4 linked regions of the Homo sapiens genome follow. The protein of the gene in region 3 purifies or fractionates together with the protein of the main gene of each other region. This does not show direct contact. Each region holds a gene or a part of one and is shown on either strand. Other genes may lie near its edges.

The links.
Region 1: the proteins of PDHX (region 3) and PARS2 fractionate together in Homo sapiens (co-fractionation; one large-scale study listed by BioGRID). This does not show direct contact.
Region 2: the proteins of PDHX (region 3) and LRPPRC fractionate together in Homo sapiens (co-fractionation; one large-scale study listed by BioGRID). This does not show direct contact.
Region 4: the proteins of PDHX (region 3) and ALDH16A1 fractionate together in Homo sapiens (co-fractionation; one large-scale study listed by BioGRID). This does not show direct contact.

What each region holds. Positions count from the first base shown.
Region 1 is NC_000001.11:54,761,724-54,765,806, forward strand, and holds the start of PARS2 (probable proline--tRNA ligase, mitochondrial precursor), read right to left. Parts: upstream 2,801-4,083; 5' UTR 2,738-2,800; intron 1-2,737. UniProt on the Homo sapiens protein: Mitochondrial aminoacyl-tRNA synthetase that catalyzes the specific attachment of the proline amino acid (aa) to the homologous transfer RNA (tRNA), further participating in protein synthesis.
Region 2 is NC_000002.12:43,975,449-43,979,617, forward strand, and holds part of LRPPRC (leucine-rich PPR motif-containing protein, mitochondrial precursor), read right to left. Parts: intron 1,829-4,169; coding exon 1,707-1,828; intron 1,605-1,706; coding exon 1,546-1,604; intron 782-1,545; coding exon 695-781; intron 1-694. UniProt on the Homo sapiens protein: May play a role in RNA metabolism in both nuclei and mitochondria. In the nucleus binds to HNRPA1-associated poly(A) mRNAs and is part of nmRNP complexes at late stages of mRNA maturation which are possibly associated with nuclear mRNA export.
Region 3 is NC_000011.10:34,960,601-34,966,575, reverse strand, and holds part of PDHX (pyruvate dehydrogenase protein X component, mitochondrial isoform 1 precursor), read right to left. Parts: intron 1-5,975.
Region 4 is NC_000019.10:49,465,656-49,471,630, reverse strand, and holds the end of ALDH16A1 (aldehyde dehydrogenase family 16 member A1), read right to left. Parts: intron 5,894-5,975; coding exon 5,726-5,893; intron 5,550-5,725; coding exon 5,348-5,549; intron 3,251-5,347; coding exon 3,065-3,250; intron 2,768-3,064; coding exon 2,645-2,767; intron 1,326-2,644; coding exon 1,164-1,325; 3' UTR 581-1,163; downstream 1-580.

The sequences.
Region 1 (4,083 bases), on a different chromosome or scaffold from region 3:
TTACCTCTAGCAGCCTCAGGTCCTCCAGCTTGTCCCCTCCAACCTCAAGCAGCCTCATTCATTTCCCCTGTGCACTGTACAAATGTTTAAAGGTGGTCAGGCACTGCCACAGAGCCCTAGTGTGGTGTTGTAGGAACGTACGGGCCATGGAGGCAAGGCACATGTGGATTCACCCCTGGCTCTATAACTTCCTTGTGATCCAACCTTACTTAGGGCAGTGGCTCCAGCCAGAAACTCATCCTTGATTCCTCCTAAAGCAAATGAGTCTGTCTCAAGGTTTCCCTTAAGTCCACCCCCTCCTTTCTGGCCCTTACTGCCTCAACATTAGGTTAGCCCCTCAATACCACTTGCTACATTACAGTTACCCAGTGGTTCTGAAATCTAATTGAGCATCAGAATCGCTGGAGGGCTTGTTTTTTTTTTTTTTTTTTTAGAGACAGAGTTCACTCTATCACCCAGGCTGGAGTGCAGTGGTGCAATGTCAGATCACTGCAACCTCCGTACCCCCAGCCTCAAGAGATTCTCTTGCCTCAGCCTCCTGAGTAGCTGGAATTACAGGCATGTGCCACCATGCCCAACTATTTTTCATATTTTTAGTACAGACAGAGTTTCACCATGTTGGCCAGGCTGGTCTCAAACTCCTTGACCTCAAGTGATCAGCCCGCCACGGCCTCCCAAAGTGCTGGGATTACAGGCGTGAGCCACCATGCCCGGTTGGGTTTGTTAAAACAGTGATTGCAGAGGCCCATCTCCAGAGCTTCTCATTTAGTAAGTTTGGGGTGTGGGCAGAGAACCTGTATTTCTAACAAGTTCCCAGGTGACACAGATGCTGCTGGTCCAGGGACCCCACTGGGAGAACCACTGCAGGGGTCTAGCTGTGTACCACCAATGACTAATGTCTTAAACTCCATGAAGACGACAGCTATGTCTATTTTATTCCAAGTTTTATCTGCAGCATTCAGCACAGTGCCTGGACACAGTGGACACTCAATAACATGTTCCTTTTTTTCTTTCTTAAAAAATAGAGATGGAGTCTTGCTATGTTGCCCAGGCTGGTCTTGAACTCCTGGCCTCATGCGATCCACCTGCCTCAGCTTCCCAAATTGCTGGGATTATAGGTGTGAGCCACTGTGCCCAGGCTCAATACATGTTCTATCAATGAATGAATGGAGTAATTCTTGAACCCTGTCAGTCCAGTCTCCGTATTAGTCTCCAGCTAAAAAGATAGCTGACCCAATCACTCCCCTGTTTACAATCCATTAACGGCTGGCTCTCATAATTTTCTCAGAATGGCACCAAAGCTCTTCACATTTTGATCCCAACACACCTCTTCCAGCTTCTTATCCTAGCATTCCCCAAGTTGCTCATTATTCTTGAAACAGACTGACCTCCCCCCAACCCCCAGCAATTCCAACTGGAATTCAAGGTTCACTTACTCCAAGAAACTTTCTCCAACCCCTCTAAACAGAGAAAGTCACCTCCTCTGTGCTCCACTGCACACACCTCTTTTTAGTATACTGTATTAGAATCATCTCCAAAAATATTTTTGAGGAACTATTGTGTGCCAGGCATTGGAAGCGAATGGTGTTTCACATACAATTTTTTTTCTTTCTGGGGGTGTGTACGGGGGCCAGGAGGGGAGGTCAGTGTCGATGTTTAACATTCTATTCCTTGATGAAATTACAAGTTTATGAAGTTTTATACATCTTTAAATTTCAGAGTCTCGCATAATGCCTACTATTTAGGCTATTATTATCTGTTGATCAAATATGTTAATAAATTAAGAGCAAAGCAAACAGGTGCAATGATATAATTATCTGGATAATTTAAACGAGAGCTTTAAACTCTTCTCCTCCACGTTTAGCATGTCTGTCCTCAGACCCCTCAGCTTATACAAACAGGAGAATAAGTAGAATTATCTCAGTTTTTCAGGAGCAATACAGTAACTAACGTATGCAACACTTCAGGCTCTGGCAAACAGCCTCTGAGACATTCAGTCGATTTTTTTGAGTACCTACTCTGTCGGGACACTGTCAGCCCTTCCAGCCCAGGCCTTTTTAAAGATTCTTTGACTCACCATTGCCCCCCAATCTAATCAGAAAAGTTGTACCTAAAGCGTTTACAACCGTACCTGATACATAATATTAAGTCTCACAAAGTGCTATTATTATTATTATTATGCCCAACTCAGAAAAGGGAGGCTCTGAAATATAAAGTCACTTGTGTCAAGCCACACAGCAAATAAGCGCAGGGTCGGGCCTGGAAGGCAAGGTCCCCGCCTCCAAATCCTACAGTTTCCATCACGAACTGTGCTACATTAAACAGCAATGGAACCCTAGGCCTAGTTCTAAGAACAAGCTCGGCCTTCACTCGCTCGGTGACCCTGGACCACTCACTTCGCCCCGGACCTCCGTTTTCTCCAACATAAAACGGGAAGGCTGGCTCAGGCAGCAGGTGGTCCCAGGGCCTTTCCAGAGCTGGCACTTCGAGAACTGTGTGACTCTCACGACGACCGAGGGAGAGACCAGGAAGTGCTGCCCTCATTTTACAACGGAGGACACGGAGACCAGGAGTATCGAAAAGTTTATGGGATTCTCGCCCGCCCCAACTCAAGGACGGGATGCAAGTGGGAAAACGGACACCAGGGTCCTAGGTCTCCGCGCCCACACCGCGTGCTCGCTTCATTTCGCTGCCCGCGCCCGTCCCTCAGGTCTGGGAGTCACCCACGTTCACCTACCGCAATCCCAGCCCACGCCTCCCGCAAGACCACCGCCGTGCCGGGCCAGCGCGCTTGCGCCTCGAGCAAGCCCGCTCCTAAGCCCCGCCTCCTGCCCTTTTCGCCAATTGCAAAGCCGCGCTCACGGAGGCGGGGCCGAGGGCAGGGGCGCTCTGGCCCCGCCCCACGCTAGGCGCGCGTGAGAGGTTTTCCGGAAGTGTAGCCAAAGAGCGAGTACCCGGCTTTCCCCAAGATCGTTGATTGGCCAGGGCAGCCTTGAGTAAATCACCGTTCCGGAAGTACTTTCTAGGAACTTGGGAGGTATAACTCTATGATGACTTGAGGGTGCTCTTCCTGCCCCTGCCAGGCCCCGCCCACTCCCCCAATAGGAGAACCACTGGCGACAGTGTAACCATGACGACACACTGGGCAGTGTAGTTTCTAATCTATCCTATGATTTTTACGGGCTTTCCATTTAAATAGTATAAAATTGTGAAACAGTTTGAGAAAGACGCCTTTATTACAGTGCCCAAGACAGTCTTTAAGACACAGATTCAAACTTCCATTCACAAAATATTTTTTGAGCTGCTACCACGTAGAAGCCACTGCTGTAGACACTGGGGACAGTGAAGTGAACCAAACAGACAAAATTAACTGCGTTCAGTGTAGCTTGTGTTCTAGAGAGGACACAGTCAATAAACCAATAGAGCGAAATTTAAGCAGGGCAGGGAATGGGAGCAAAGAACTCAGTAACCAAGATAAACAGTATTTTAATACAATTGTTTTTTTAAAAAAACAAAATGCAAAAAATCCATGGCAAACAAAATATCAAAATTTAAAAGAATCTGTCAGTCAGATGGTGATAAGGGCTATAAAGAAAAAATTAGAGAAGGAGAATGGAGTGGGGGAGTTAAGTGTTTGCAATTTTTTTCTTTGTTTTTTTGAGACGGAGTTTTGCTCTTGTCGCCCAGGCTGGAGTACAATGGCGCGTTCTCGGCTCACTGCAACCTCCTTCTCCCGGGTTTAAGCAATTCTTCTGCCTCAACCTCCCGAGTAGCTGGGATTACAGGTGCCCACCACGTCCGACTACTTTTTGTATTTTTAGTAGAGATGGGGTTTCACCATATTGGCTAGGCTAGTCTTGAACTCCTGACCTCAGGTGGTGATACACCCACCTCGGCCTCCCAAACTGTTGGGATTATAGGTGTGAGCCACCGCGCCCAGCCAAGTGTTTGCAATTTAAAATAGGAGGATCAGGAAAAACCTCATCAAGTAGGTGGCGTTTTTAGCAAAGACCAGAAGGGGGTGAGAGACAGAGCCTTGCAGGGGAAGAAATTTCCAGACACAGGAAACAAGAAATGCAAATG
Region 2 (4,169 bases), on a different chromosome or scaffold from region 3:
ATACCCTCTTAATATTATGTAGGTTATGACTCAGACTTAACTTTCGAGGTAAGAATAACATTTAGTAAATTACTCTTCAAAAATAAAAATATTTTCCAGAGCAGTTACTTCAGATCAGATCAAGCCCAGTTTCTTTTTTCTTTTTTTTTTTTGAGATGGAGTCTTGCTCTGTCTCCCAGGCTGGAGTGCAATGGTGTAATCTCGGCTCACTGCAACCTCTGCCTCCCGGGTTCAAGCAACGCTCCTGCCTCAGACTCCCAAGTAGCTGGGATTACAGGCACCTGCCATCATGCCCGGCTAAATTTTTATATTTTTGTAGAGACCGGGTTTCACCATGTTGGCCAAGCTGGTCTTGAACTCCTGACCTCAGGTGATCTGCCCACCTCAGCCTCCCAAAGTGCTGGGATTACAGGCATGAGCCACCACGCCCGGCTTCAAGCCCAATTTCTAAAAATTCAAATAAAAGAAAGATTTGTGGAACAAATGTAAAAGCTCATTATAAAAATATTAGTATGCTCTACCTCATATACTACAGATTTTTTTTTGAAGGGATAGACAAATGTATTTTAAGAACTGTCTACAATAATTTTCTCTAATTTAAACCCCACTTAACAAACAAAAAAGGAGTAAAATGACCACTTTAGCATCTCAGCCATCTATCACTTAAGAACCAAAACCTTAGGTTGAACATTACCCAGCTCTGGCATGCCCTGTCACAAGGGCACTGAATACTGCCTCTGTAACTGGGAGATCCTTAGTTTTCATAAATCCAAGAATCTTGCTGCAAAGGAAAAACGAAGATACTCATTGAAAGTATTTATAAGAACACTCTTTACAACATGTACAGAATTAGGCCTTGAGTTACTTTTGTTTTTAAAATATAATAGTAATATACATTTGTTTTAGAAACCACAAAGAAAGAACTAATCCCTTTGATCCCCTTCCCACAAAACCCCACTCTCTAATGTATCAACAGTCTTGAAGTACTATCGATACAAATACTAGATTTTTAAAAATCTGATTATCTGATTTGTCTTACACTACTAATTACCCTTTTAAAAGCATAGTTTCATAAGATTCTTTTAGATAAAAATGAAATTATGTATTCCAATTTATCCCTTATTTTCCAAACCTTCCATTCATAAGTAGTAATAAATTTTACATAAGCAGAGAAATGGTGCAACTGATTTTCTACACTACTTCCAGTTTTATAAATGAATACAGCTTAAATGGTTAAGAACATTTCCCTTAGGAAATATTTAAAAAAAAAAAAAAAAAAGCAAAGTCAGCTTTATAGCTCAACAACTTTATACCTCTCTCCAGTAAATCAAATTTTTAATTAAAATAGCAACTTTTACTTATCTTTTCTCTCTTACACGATAATTTTATATTTTATGTAAGTCAGATTACCAGATTTTCTAGATTAAAACAGTTCTGAAACAATTTCCTCCATTAGGAAGAAGCTTTAAAACAAAGAGTGAACAGACATTAGATTTACAAAATGTACAAATTTGTTCGCTTAAACATGTTCATACAGATCCATACCTGGCACCTTCAATATCTCCTACATTACAATAAGAAGCAATCAATCTCTGGTATGTCACCTGTCAATGAAATGGGCCAGTTAATTTTAAATATACTTTTTTTTCTGAGTAAAGAAAAAAAATGGTGGATGTGAAAATATATTCACAATAGCAACTACTTACTCGATTTGGTTGAATGTTTGCTTCCTCCATTTTTGCCAGGAAATCAGTTGGTGAGAATTTATATTCATTTTGAAGATAGACTTTAAGTAAAGCATTATAGTGACTCACATCATACACAGCACCTACAAATGAAATTTAAAATGAATTTTTAGAAAAGCATTGAAAATCCTATGCTTTAAAGTGGACCTAAATTTAACAAACAAAAAGAGTAAAACTATCACTTTAGCATTTCACCCATCCATCTTGGCGCTCAGACCTATCTACACAGATACTCTGTCACACAGAGCAAGCTAAGCATGTAAGACAGTAATTACTGAGTTACTGTATAGTTACAAGTAACTGCCTATTCGGATATTAAAAGGCCTCTTACTTATGAAGCACAAAATTATCTTCCTGTTAGAAAACGCTGACAATATCCCTATATTTAAAAGTGACTGTAAGATTTTTCTATATAAAGCAGTCCTCACATTACAGACACACTGTGAAGAATGGATTGTAACTTCAGTTCTTTCACACAGTAGGACTGTGCTGGCAATTCTGTCACTCAAAGCCTTCATTTTAAGGATGCATTCCATTTTCAGCTGATGAACATGATCTATGGTATGCTCTTGTTAATTATCTGTATTCTAATGACCTTTGTTTTCTTTGTATCCCTACTGTTTAGGGCCACATCAAATAAGGTTACCACACAGCCTTACTCTACTGAGTCATGACATCATGGTCTTTATATCAATTTTGTGGTAACATGTCTCACTACATTTTCATGCATTAAATTTCACATCTTTATTCAACTGCCTGTGACCATACAGGCCTATGGTTAGTATCTGGGGGTGAGAGTATGTGATTTTAGGCAGCAGAGAGCTGTTCCATTAAATTAATACACATTTTTATCTTAACAGATATGTTTCTTTCATACTATGTTTCAGGCACTATGCTAAGTGTTCCACATATAGTGGCTCACTCAAACTTCACAACAACTTTGAGACACTATTATCAGCCCCATCTTACAGATAGCTCAGATCTGTCAACAGCTCATTCTGTAATTTTGGACAAGTTACTTAAGCTAAAAGATCTCTTGTATCTTTATAAATCTGTAAACAAGAGTCAAACTGGCAAACTACAAGGTTTCTGGCAATATTAATTCAACAAGTATGTATCAAATGCCATTATACACAAAGCATCATGCTACTGTCAAACAGGAAAATAAAGAAGCCATGGATTCCATCCTTATAAAGCAGACACTTATACAGGAGAGACCTATCTGTAAAGAATGTTAATATAATAACACATTGTTAATCTTTATATGGAGGAATTAATGTTATTACTGCTGTGTAATGCTTTTTTCTATTTTAGAATGTAACCTTTTCTGCATATATTTCTCCCAGTTCAATGACTTACTGACATACAGAAATTTCTAATTTTTAGAGATTCAATATTTTAGCTTTACTTTTCTGCTCCTTTTATACTTATAAAATCCTTTTCCATTCTGAAAGTCAACATTTATCTATATAGTTTTTAACTTAAAAAAAAATCAACTTATCAAAATGTATTCTAGATGTATTCAAAACTGTGAAGGAAGAATCTGTCTTTATCCTGTAGTTTTTTTCACATAGGTCCTACTCACTTTTTGAAGGATAGTCCTAAATATTTTATTTATCTGTAGCTATACTTTCTTGGATTCTTTTCTCTATTTTCTTTTATAACTAGAAGAGGTATGGATTCTTAAACATTTAGTGAGTCCAGCTAATTACTGTGAGCTGATTTTCTGGGATTTTGCAGATTAAACAATCACATCATCTAAAAATAATAACTTCTTGTATTGTTTCACATCTTATTTCATTGCATTATACATGATTGTTGTCGGTTTTAGATTTTTAACACATTAAAGAAGCATCTTTCTATACTTTAAGATTTTTTTAAATCAGGAATGAACATTAAATTGTATTAAACCATCTTTTTTCAAATTATTTTTTGAATACGTACTATGTTACATGACATAAAACTGAAAAGGTATAAAAAGGTCAAGTAAAACCTGTATCCAGTGTTCATCATCCTTCTAGAAATATTTTAATATTGTATACACATGCACGTGTAAAAACACTTTTCTTCAAAATGGTATCATTCTATACATACTGGTCTACACCTTAATTTTTATTTATACTCTGGAGAACACCCCCATTGGCATATAAAGAGCTTCTTCATTTCTTAAAACAGTTACACAGTAATCTATTTTACGGGTACTCCATAATTTATTTACCTAATCCCCTAGAGAAGAATATTTGAATTGGTTCCAATTTCTTACTATTACAAACAAGCTACAATGAAGAATATCCTTTTGCATATGTGAGTATATCTGTACCTAAATTCGAACAAATGGAACTGCTCGGTCAAATGGTATGTGCATTTATAACTTTGACAGACAAACCGGCTATTTTCTTCTTTTTCTTTTTTAACTTACCGTAC
Region 3 (5,975 bases):
AACGCAGGTGAGATGTGGAGAAAAGATACAGAAATATACAGATGTCAAGGTTATAATTAAAAACCAGTAATTTGAGCTAGAAAATTAAATCCTGTCTCTTACCTGGTCTGCTGACCATTATTTGTCACGTTCTAATATTTGCATATTTTCAAAAGCCAAACAATTAAAATGTTATTAAAATTGGGCATAAGTAGTGATTTTTAAAAAGGAAATTAGTCTTTTTTTCTGTGCAGTGGACGTTATTTGGTAGATGAACAATTAATTAAACCACTCTCATCCTTTATACTCATGAAATAATATTCACATGGCATTCAAAAAGTGTCAAGTTTATTGTAAATATGGCTTTCACCAGGATACTTCCTACATCATTGTTCACTTATTGTTTATTCATTGTTTATTATAGTGCAAATCAGCTTATTTATGACCAGGAAATCAAACCATTTTTAATTTTGCTAATATGCCATCAGTACAATCTAATATAACAAATCTAACCTATGATATCTTTTAGAATGAAAAATAACTAGTTACAGACTTGCCTTTGTATTACTCTGTAAAACAAAGGTATTTTTGTCTTGTAAGAGGATATAATTAGATTACTAAATATGCTAAGCCCTCAACTCACTATGCTAAGTTACAGTGGTATTAGGCAATATATTTTCTTAAAATAATTTTTGGAACATTTTAATATCCAATAAGTATTTTGGAAAGTATTTTTTCCAATTTAAGAAAAAAAATTGTTTTATATAATCTAAAAAGAACTTCAGGATGACACAAAATCTAAGGAAAAATTATTTCTCAGTTAATATTTTGGTATTATTTTTCCAAAAATTTGATGAAAGATAAAAGCTAGCACCTGTTGAGCATATTTGAGAAGACCCCTTTACTTATGGCAACATGGTAGGAAGAATTCTGAGATGGCCCCAATATTCCTGCCCCTGGTGTACATGCCCCATATCATCCCTCTTGACTGTATCTGGCCTGTGAATATGATGGATGTCACTCCCATTATTAGGTCCTATTATGTGACAAAATTGGTGGCATTTTATAGATATATGAGGCTCCAAATCAGTTGCATTTGAGTTAACCAAAAGGCAAACTACCCTGGAGAGGGCAGATATATCAGGTAATCTCTTAAAAGAAATTAGGCCTTCCTGGAAGAAGAGACTTGAAGTAAAGAGATAAAACTGCTGGCCCGGGAGAAGCAAACATGCATGTTGTGAACCGCCTATGGAGACCACGCATGGCAAGGCCCTGCACGTGGCCTCTGGGAGCTGTCAGTGGTTCTTGGCTGAGAGCTAGAAAGAAAACAAGGGCCACAGTCCTACAGTCCCAAGGAACTGCATTCTGTCAACAACCACATGAGCTTGGAAGAGGACCCCAAGCTTCACATGAGTCCCCAGCCTTGGCCAACACTTTGATTTCAGCCTTGTGAGACCATGAGTTCAGAACCTGGCCATGCTATGCCAGGACTTCTAACCTATTGAACTGTTAGAAAACAAACAGGTATTATTTTAAGCTGGTAAGTTTACTGTAACTTGTTATGCAATAATAGAATATCAACACAAGCAGGAACAGTCTAACTGGGGTGCAAAAATCTGTATCGTTAATGCCCGAATACATCTATTTAAAAAAAAGGTTGCTGACACTAAATTGACACATTTTTAGCATAACTATTACTTATTAGCATATTTAGTAATATGTAATATTTAGTTATGCTAATAATATGCTAATAGCTAGCTAATATTAGTTATGCTAATAGCTAATATTAGTTATGCTAATAGCTAATATTAGTTATGCTAATATTACATATTTAGCATAACTATTACTGCTACTTTATTTTTTAAAAAGCAGTTTAGTTTTATCTCTGTAGTAATTAAGGTTCTTGGGTAGGTTAATCATAAAGAAGCAAGAACAAAATTGCTTCTTCTTGCTCACAAAAACTTGTATTGCTGATTTTATTTTTTTTTTATTTTTTAAAGAGTCTCACTCTGTCACCCAGGCTGGAGTGCAGTGGCGCGATCTCAGCTCACTGCAACCACCGCCTCCAGGGTTCAAGAGATTCTCATGCCTCAGCCTCTTTAGTAGCTGAGATTACAGGTGTGCATCACCACGCCTGGCTAATTTTTATATTTTTAGTAGAGATGGGGTTTTACCATGTTGGCCAGACTGGTCTCAAACTCCTGGCCTCAAGTGATTCGCCAGCCTTGGTCTCCCAAAGCACTGGGATTACAGGTGTGAGTCACTGCACCTGGTCTTTTTATTGCTGATTTTATACTTACATACCTATGAAGTATAAATCTTAATTATTGTTTAGTAACAGCCAATGATTTAGTTTTTTGTGAGGCAGAAAATGGTTTTAATGATTTCTGCACATTAAATAATCAGACTAAACTTGGAGCATTAGGTAGACATTAAAAGCTATAAAAATTAGGAGAAAAATATACCACACAAATTCATTCTGGCCACTGGCAGAAATAGGCAGATAGGCAGAGGATGCTCTGGAAGTTAACTCAGGTACAACCTTCTCTACTGGGTTCCCTGAGAGAGCAATTCATTTGGGTGTGACATGAATTCATTTTGAAAATACCACTAAAACACACTAGGCACTTGCCTGTCATACTTACCTAATTTTTGATGCTGTGTGATGAATACAAACATTACTACAACTATGATTTAGGACACAGATGTACCAAAGACATTGGGGCTGCAGGCAAAGAAACTAAATGTGTTCTGCTTCTAATTGTGGCCTCGACACTGCTTTCTTAAAACAGTCACATGTACAAGCAAAGTCAAGTCTATATTCTTTGGTACAACATGTATTCTGAGCAATGCTTGTTTTAAGGCAAAATTAAAATAGCAGCCCTGATACCCAAGATTTTCTTCACAAATACAGTGGGCTGGAGGCATTTCCTTCAGCATTTGGAACTGATTTTTCTACCCAGACTTTTAGTGGACATGGTATGGAGCATGTCCTCACCGTGTCAAGAACGTGTGTTGGCTGGGCACAGTGGCTCACGTCTGCATTCCCAGCACTTCGAGAGGCTGAGGTGGGAGGGTCACCTGAGGCCAAGAGCTTGAGACCAGCCTGGGCAACCTAGTGAGAAACCGTCTCTACAAAACTGTTTTAAAAATTTAGCCAGGCATGGTGGCACACCTGTAGTCCCAACTATTTGGGAGGTTGAGGTGATAGGACCACTTCAGCCTAGGAGTTCAAAGCTGCAGTGAGCTATGAATACACCACAGCACCCCAACCTGGGTGACAGAGTGAGAGCCTGTCTCTCTCTTAAAGAAAAAAAAATTCAAAACGTTAAAAAATAAAAAAGTGTGCTAAGATATTTTGGGGACAGCTATGCCAAAGCCTGCAATTTTTCAACCATAGCAGAAGACGACATTAGGCTAAAATTTTTTCCAAAGCTCACCTTAATGATAAACTTAAAATGCAGGCATTTTTAGCAGTATAGAAAAGCAAAAATCCTCAATAATATATGCTTTCAGGATCCATTTTTCTCATGAAATCTTTTGTACTAGTTCTTATTTTGAAGACCAAAGGCTGATGCCTTTCTCGTGGAGAGTTAAGGAATAAAGGCAGGGAAGAGAAAAGGGTAACAGGGTAGAAAAGATGGCAATAATACTAAAAGCCTAACTCTTTAATACTGCTTCCTTATGGTATTCAGGAGATAATACCATTTTGTTCTTAAGAAATGTTTCATTAATATTATAACTTTCAACTCAGGTTTAAAAAAAGATATTTGCGCATCATATATGTATTAAGCACACATGGAAAGAAAAGGAAGGAAGAAACCTTTATTTCTTTATTTTACTGCTGTCACACTACTGAACACCATATTACCAAATTTAAGAGGCTTTTCTTAGATCCTACCATCCTTGACTTTTCCCACATTTCCCAGGTATCCTCCAACTCAAGGATTTTAACCTCTAGTTTCCCTATTGATGATCTCAATTATAACTATTGCTTTATTATCTACCAAATCTACCTCTCTAATCCCCAACTATCTCCTGAGATACATCTTCATCTCATTGATCCCAATACCTACATGGCTTCTAAGTCCTGACAATAAGCTTCAAACATTACTAACTCCACCAAAACAAATGCTTCCCAAATCCATTATTTCTATTTATGGAGACCAAACTATCATCACCTAGACCAGATCCAAATTCATTCCCTTACTTGTTGCTACTCTGGCCTACACTCCACATTTAATCTGCAAAGGCTTCTGGACTTTATCCTTACAATGTTGTCTGTATCAGGGATCTCCCTTTTAGTTCTTCTAACCACATTCAAGTATTCATTACCTCTTACATGGATTACTTTAGGAGCCTATTAATTTATCTCCTTATCTCATCTTTTTCTGCTCCAGTTTATCTTACACAAATTTGCAGAACTGATCCCCCTAAGGTGCAGCAATCATTATTTTACATTTCACCAAATCCTCAAAGATTAATGAATTAAATACAGACTCTTATTCCTAATCCTCAGAATTATGAGCAAGGCAAATCTACTTTGTTATAAAAATAGTTGCTTTCTCCCATTTTTACAGAGAGTGCTACTAAGGCACAGACTGGTAGAGACTAACAAGATTAAGATACCAACAGTAGACACAAATCAGGATTGGTGTGGGGAAAAAACTGGGATTAACTGGCAACCAAGGTTCTTAATTTTAATTTTTTACAGCTAAGTGTAACTTTTAAATCCTTTAACTAAAAATCCCATGGTCTGGGATGTTGCCTTTCAGTCAGCTCTCAGGACAGCTGATTTCCAACTCATGCAGTGTGGCACGAACTTCACAGTATGTGTGTGATAGAACCACATACATTCAGTTAACAAATTAGTAAGAGTGTAATACACATAAATGAGGATATCTAAGAATTAAATCTATATACTGCTTTCAATAAAATAAACACCCAACAGTAAGCCAAAGCTTTCATGAAGAGTAAAATAACCCAGTGGAAAAAAGAAAACATTGCCTGGCCCAACACTGCCACTTATAATTTAACAACCATTGCTCTCTCTCGACTTACAAAAATTCTGGCCAATATTATTTTTTATTTCCTATCAATATTAGATAAATATGGAATGAGTACATTGCTTTAAAACATAAACTCAATTTGAAACATTTACTATTACTGCCAATAAAAATGTAGCACATAACACTACTGAAATCTTACATTAGTTCATAAGCCTATTTGATTAATCTTTGTCTACCCTACTAGACTAAGTTTCAACAGAACAGGGGCCATCTGTTTTGAAAGACACAAACATTTAAACTAATGGAAAGACACAAACATTTAAACCAGTGTTGCAGAACAGAAAGACCCATCATGATAAAGATGTCAGTTCTCACAAAGTTAATTTAAAATGTGATACAATCCCATAAAAATACCCCTCACTCCTACCCATGGAGCTAGACGAACTGCTTAAAATTCATTTGGAAGAATAATAAAATAAGAATGAACTAAGAAAACTGATTTAAAAAAAGAGCAAAGCTATTGTTATCAGATTTTAAAGCATACAATAAAACATTTCTAATTAAAAGTGTGGTACTAAAAAAGTATGGTACTAACTCATGGACAGATGGATCAGTGAAATAGAAAAGAAAATCTAAAAAGAGACCAAACTGTATATGGAAATTGCTTTATAACAGCACAAGTGAATAAAATTCAAAGGGATAATGAAAATAATTTTTTAAAAATATATTTCCTTGTTTTAGAAATGTAAATGTTATTGCATGATTTCACATATTTAATACTGTATAAAGTTTCACTGTTCTACGCTCTAATTTTCTGCATTTATTACCACTTCTAAGGATCTTGCTTAGTTACCAAATTAGAGCTGTTCTTCAGTAATGCTATAATTATTCAGAAAACAACTCTTGCATAGAATACAATTTACAATGATAAAAGCAATTAAAAGTACAAAAGAAGAACAGTGTACCTCCTTTTAAATCTTAAGACTG
Region 4 (5,975 bases), on a different chromosome or scaffold from region 3:
GGGAGGATTGAGCCCAGGTCGAGGGTGGGTTCAGTAAGCTGTGACTGCGCCACTGTATTACAGCCTAAAAAACAGAGCAAGATCCTTTATTTAAAAATCAACAGTCGTGCGCAGTGGCTTAAGTCTGTAATCTTAGCACTTTGGGGAGACCAAGACAGGCGGACCGCTTGAGGTCAGGAGTTTGAAACCAGCCAGGCCAAGATGGTGAAACCCCGTCTGTACTAAAAATACAAAAAATTATCTGGGTGTGGTGGCGCGAGCCTGTAATTCTAGCTACTCTGGAGGCCGAGGCAGGAGAATCGCTCGAACCTGGGAGGCGGAGGTTGCAGTGAGCCGAGATCACCCCGCTGCACTCCAGCCTGGCCGACAGAGAGACTCTGTCTCGAAAAAACAAAAAACAAACCAAAAAAACCCACCCACAACCAGAATCCTAAGGCAGTGGTGTGCTGAAGCGGCTCGTATTGGCTCATGGGAGCTGACCTGTTAACAATTCAGGATCTCGCAGGCAGTTGTTTAATCACCTGTACCTTGAAATCCGGCACGGTGGGAGCATTTACATCATGGAAATTGACAAAAGTCATATAGGAGGACTTTAATTTTATTCCAGAGAGTTCCTTTACTGCATATGGATTCTGGGGCCATGAAAAGGTAGAGAAAACCAGAGAGCAAGAGCCACCAGATGGAGAAGACAAGAAGATATGAGAGTCCTAAGGCCCTGTCTGGGGTCCTCGGGGGTCCCCTTTCTCTGTTTCACAAACACAGCACCGTGCTGGAGCCGGCTCCTGAGCTGCTCAACCTCAGAACTAAAATGGCCTCGAGCCAGGTGTGGTGGTGCATGTCTGTGGCCCCAGCTACATATGAGGCTGAGGCATGAGGATCCCTTGAGCCCCAGAGGTCGAGGCTGCAGTGGGCCGAGATTGTGCCACTGCGCTCCAGCCTGGGTGACAGAGCCAGACGTTGTCTCAAAAAAAAAAAAAAAAAAGAAAAAAGCCTCATATCTGCCAGAAGTTGCTACACCCTTTCTTCTCGCAGAAGCACAGCTAGGGTTGGTCAGAGAGTTTATTGGGAGACACAGGAACCAGAAGGGGAAAGTCCCAGGTGTCTGTGGGGTGCATCTCCCCTTGGTGTGAGGTGTCCAAAATGCAGTAGGTGGCGCTCAGGCATCAGTCCCCCATAGGCAGCCACAGGGCCTTGGTCCGCGCCACTCGCAGCCCCAGCTCTGGGCCTGCCCCCTCGGCCTCCTGGTCCCAGGCCCGCGGGCAGCCCCTGCTCGCCCACACCGGTTTGAGGTTTCCTGCCGAGGCCCACTCGACAAACTGGGAACCCTGAGGGGAGGAAGAGACGGGGGTAAGCACTTCTGCAGGCTTGTTGCTGAGCACCTGCTTCCTCCGCGATGAAGACTGTTACTGACGAGGGGCTTCAGGCTGGACCCAGGCTCTGCAGCTACAATGCCCAGCTCCTCCCAAGCAGAACTTCCAGATGGTAGGGAAAAGCACTGGACCCAGTGGTTAGGGAATTTCCTCTCCCTTAACAGCCCATGTTGAAAGGAATGGGCCCCAAGGCTCTTGTCAACAAGTTCACATCTGTTACCAACAGGAGGTTTAAGAGAGTGGACGGTGGGGCGCGGTGACTCGCTCCTGTAATCCCAGCACTTGGGGTGGCTGAGGCGGGAGGATCGCTTGAGTTCAGGAGTTTGAGACCAGCCTGGACAATATGGCGAGACCCCGTCTCCATTTAAAAAGTAAAAATTGGTTGGGCACAGTGGCTCACGCCTGTAATCTCAGCATTTTGGGAGGCTGAGGCAGGCAGATCACGCGAGGTCAGGAGTTCGAGACCAGCCTGGCCAATATGGCGAAACCCCATCTCTACTAAAAAAAAACCCCCAACAATTAGCTGGGCATGGCGGTGAGTGCCTGTAGTCTCAGCTACTTGGGAGGCAGGAGAATCACTTGAACCCGGGAGGCAGAGGTTGCAGTGAGCCAAGATCGTGCCACTGTATTCCAGCCTGGGCGACAGAGTGAGACTCTGTCTCAAAAAAAATAAAATAAAATAAAATAAAATAAAAAAAAAAACAGTAGACTCAACCAGTTGTGCTGGCTCACACCTGTAATCCCAGCACTTTGAGAGGCCGAGGCGGGCAGATCACTTGAGCCCAGGAGTTCAAGATCAGCCTGGCCAACATAGAGAAACCCCAGTCTCTGCAAAAGAAAAAAATTAGCTGGGCATGGTGGTGCACGCCTGTGGTCCCAGCTACTCAGGAAGCTGAGGTGGGACGGTGGCTTGAGCCTGGGAGGTTGCGGCTGCAGTGAGGTATGATTGCATCTGGGTGACAGGGTGAGGTTCTGTCTCAAAATAGAAAAACAAAGCGTAGACTGTGGGCCTCCAAATCTAGGGTGTGGTCCTTAGCAACGGGCTGTCCCCTGAGACGAGGTCTTTGGGCTAGGCAGCTCTCAGGCCCCTGTTGCTAAGGACAGCCTCTTCCTTAGTAACTTGAGTCCTAAGGGCGGGGCCTCAAAACCTTCTTGTCAAGGAGTTTCTCCCCTTACCAACAGGAGTTCTAAGAGGGCGGGGCTGTGTTTCCAGAAAAGGAGGAGCCTGTTTGAAGTTTGAGATGCTGAAGATGGCAAAACAGAACAAAGAGCACCTGGGCTGATCCGAAATACCACATGGCCTGGACGTCTTGGTGCAAGGCCAGGCAGCGGGTCAGATGGTCCCGGTCTCCTGTCACCACGTTGGCCAGGCCTGCTGGGAACACGGTGGCCATGTCCTAGGGGATAGAGAGAGTGAAAGGTTGGGGAGGCCGTGGGGGCAGGGCAAGGAGTGGGCATTCAGGGGGTGCCCATGGGAGGGAAGGGGATGGGGGGTCATGGAGGAGAAAGCCCCAGGCCTAGGGTGAAGAATGGGCACTGGGTCCCCAAGGAGTGAAGGTTTGGGTGCTGGGGCTGGGGGCAGCATGGGTACCACGGAGGGTGGGGTAAGAGACAAGCTCCTGCCGACTTTGGGGCGCCTTTTTCTGCTGCCCTGAGGCTACGGGGAGGAGAGGCAGGAAGGCAGGGGGCTATACCTGGCAGACCTCCAGGGCCAGCAGAGGACAGGCCGCACTGGGCACCATGACCACAGTGTTGCCGTAGGCCAGGGCGGGAGCCAGCAGGGACACGAAGGCAAGCAGGGGCCACTCGTCCGGACACACCACAGCCAGCACACCCAGCGGCTCCCGCAGGCGCAGCACAGGGCCTCTCAGCCCGGCTACCTGCAGGGACAGGTGGGTCACGTGTGGGGCAGGGGAGCCCCGCCCGCAGTAAATGAGAGATCCAGTTCCTCTACATTCTCCCCAACACTTGGTGTTGGCCCAAACCGCACCATTGTGGAAGCCCCTGCCATTTCGCAGACGCTGGTCAAAGTGAATCATTCCACGGGGGTTCGGGCGGTGAGAAACATCCTGCATAACCGCCTTTCTTTTTTTTTTTTTTTGAGACGGACTCTCACTCTGTCGCCCTGGCTAGAGTGCAGTGGTGCGATCTTGGCTCACTGCAACCTCCGCCTCCCGGGTTCACGCCATTCTCCTGCCTCAGTCTCCTGAGTAGCTGAGACTACAGGCACCTGCCACCATGCCCGGCTAATTTTTTTTTTTTGTATATTTAGTAGAGACGGGGTTTCACTGTGTTAGCCAGGATGGTCTCGATCTCTTGACCTTGTGATCTGCCCACCTTGGCCTCGCAAAGTGCTGAGATTACAGGCGTGAGCCACTGCGCCTGGTCTATTTTCTTTTGTTAAAAATAAATATGGTGTTGGGGGGTGGGAGGCAAGGGGAGGGAACTTAGAGGGCAGGTCAATAGGTGCAGCAAACCACCATGGCACGTGTATCCCTATGTAACAAGCCTGCGCGTTCTGCACATGTATCCCAGAACTAAAGTAAAATAAAATTTAAAAAAAAGAAGGCCGGGTGTAGTGGCTCACACCTGTAATCCCAGCACTTTGGGAGGCCAAGGTGGGCGGATCACGAGGTCAGGAGATCGAGACCATCCTAACATGGTGAAACCCTGTCTCTACTAAATATACAAAAAAAAAATTAGCCGGGTGTGGTGGTGGGCACCTGTAGTCCCAGCCACTCGGAAGGCTGGGGCAGGAGAATGGCGTGAACCTGGGATGCAGAGGTTGCAGTGAGCCGAGATTGCGCCACTGCACTCCAGCCTGGGCGACAGAGCGAGACTCTGTCTCAAAAAAAAAAAAAAAAGAAAGAAAGAAATATGGTTTGGCCCATGATATAGTTCAGATGTCCCACCCAAATCTCATGTTGAAATGTAATCCCTGGCCAGGCGCAGTGGCTCACGCCTATAATCCCAGCACTTTGGGAGGTCAAGACAGGCGGATCACTTGAAGCTAGGAGTTCAAGATCAGCCTGGGCAACATGGCGAGTCTCTTGTCTCTGCAAAAATACAAAAACACCCAGTCATGTGTGCTGGTGTGTGCCTGTGATCCCAGATACTCAGGAGGCTGAGGTGGGGGGCTCACTTGGACCTCGGAGGTTGAGGCTGCAGTGAGCCATGATTGTGGCACTGCACTCCAGCCGGGTGCCAGAGGGAGACTGGTGCCAACATGCCCAGCTAATTTATCTATTTTTTGTGGAGACAGGGTTTCACTGTGTTGCCCAGGCTGGTTTCAAACTCCTGGCCTCAAGCGATCCACCCACTTTTGCCTCCCAAAGTGCTAGGATTACAGGCGTGAGCCACCATGTCTGGCCAGGTATTTTTTGTTTTTTGTTTTTTTTTGTGACACAAGGTCTCACTCTGTCACTCAGGCTGGAGTGCAGTGGCACGATCTCGGCTCACTGCAACCACTGCCTCCTGGGTTCAAGCAATTTTCCTGCCTCAGCCTCCTAAGTAGCTGGGACTATAGGTGCCCACCACCGTACCCAGCTAATTTTTTGTATTTTTAGTAGAGACCAGGTTTCACCGTGTTGCCCAGGCTGGTCTCGATCTCCTGACCTCGTGATCCGCCTGCCTCAGCCTCGCGAAGTACTGGGATTACAGGCGTGAGCCACTGCGCCCCCAGGTGTTTCTTTACAGCAATGTGAGAACCGCCTAACAGCCCACTAAATTGATTTTAGGGTCCAGGAATGGGTCGCTATCCATCATCTGGCGAACGCTACTCTACGAGGCGGGTTGTGTGCCCACTCACTGTACAGATGAGGGAACTGAGGTAGGGAGAGGTGAAGCCACTTGCTGATGATCCTGCCGTGGAAGGCGGTGGGGCTGGGCCCGAATTCCAAGCCTGGGTTATCTCACAGCCTCTGGTCTGAGCCCCACCCCGCCTGCCCAGCTGGCCCAGGTGCCCACAGACCCTTCACCTGCAGGGTGTGGCCTTGGGCCTGCACCCGGGCCCCCCACGCCCGAAGTCGTCTTGCGCTCAGCTCCACCTCCGCCTCCGCAGCCTTGAGCTCCGCTCCCTGCCTCTCCAGCCTCGAGGCCAGGGTAGACTTCCGGCGCTCCAGTGCAGCCGCCAGGGCCCACAGCAGGGCTGCCCGGGCTCCTGGGGACTGGCCCGCCCAGCTGTGGGCAGACAGCGCACAGTGGGGGTTGGCATCCTGGTCTTGGCTCTCCTGACACCCCACCTCTGTCCACAGCCCCTACCCTGGGGGCCCAGCCTCCCAGTCCACCAATTGCTGTGGGCAGGCTCCCCTCTCTGCCACACCATGACCCTTGGGCTTTCCCGTGTGACCCCTTACCCAGGGAAAGCCTGGTGAGCGGCCTCCACAGCACCTCGGATGTCCTTGGCTCCACCCTCAGCCACGTAGCCATGGAGGTTGCCAGACGAATCCCGGATGGGCCTGGAGCTTCGGGCCCCAGGAGCCTGGAAACGGCCCCCAACGAAGAGCCCATAGGGGGGTGCTGGGCTGGAGTAGGGTGGGACATGAGGAGGAGTCCTGGGGCCTCAATCTGCTCAGACCCTATGCTCTACCGCACTGGGAAGACTGC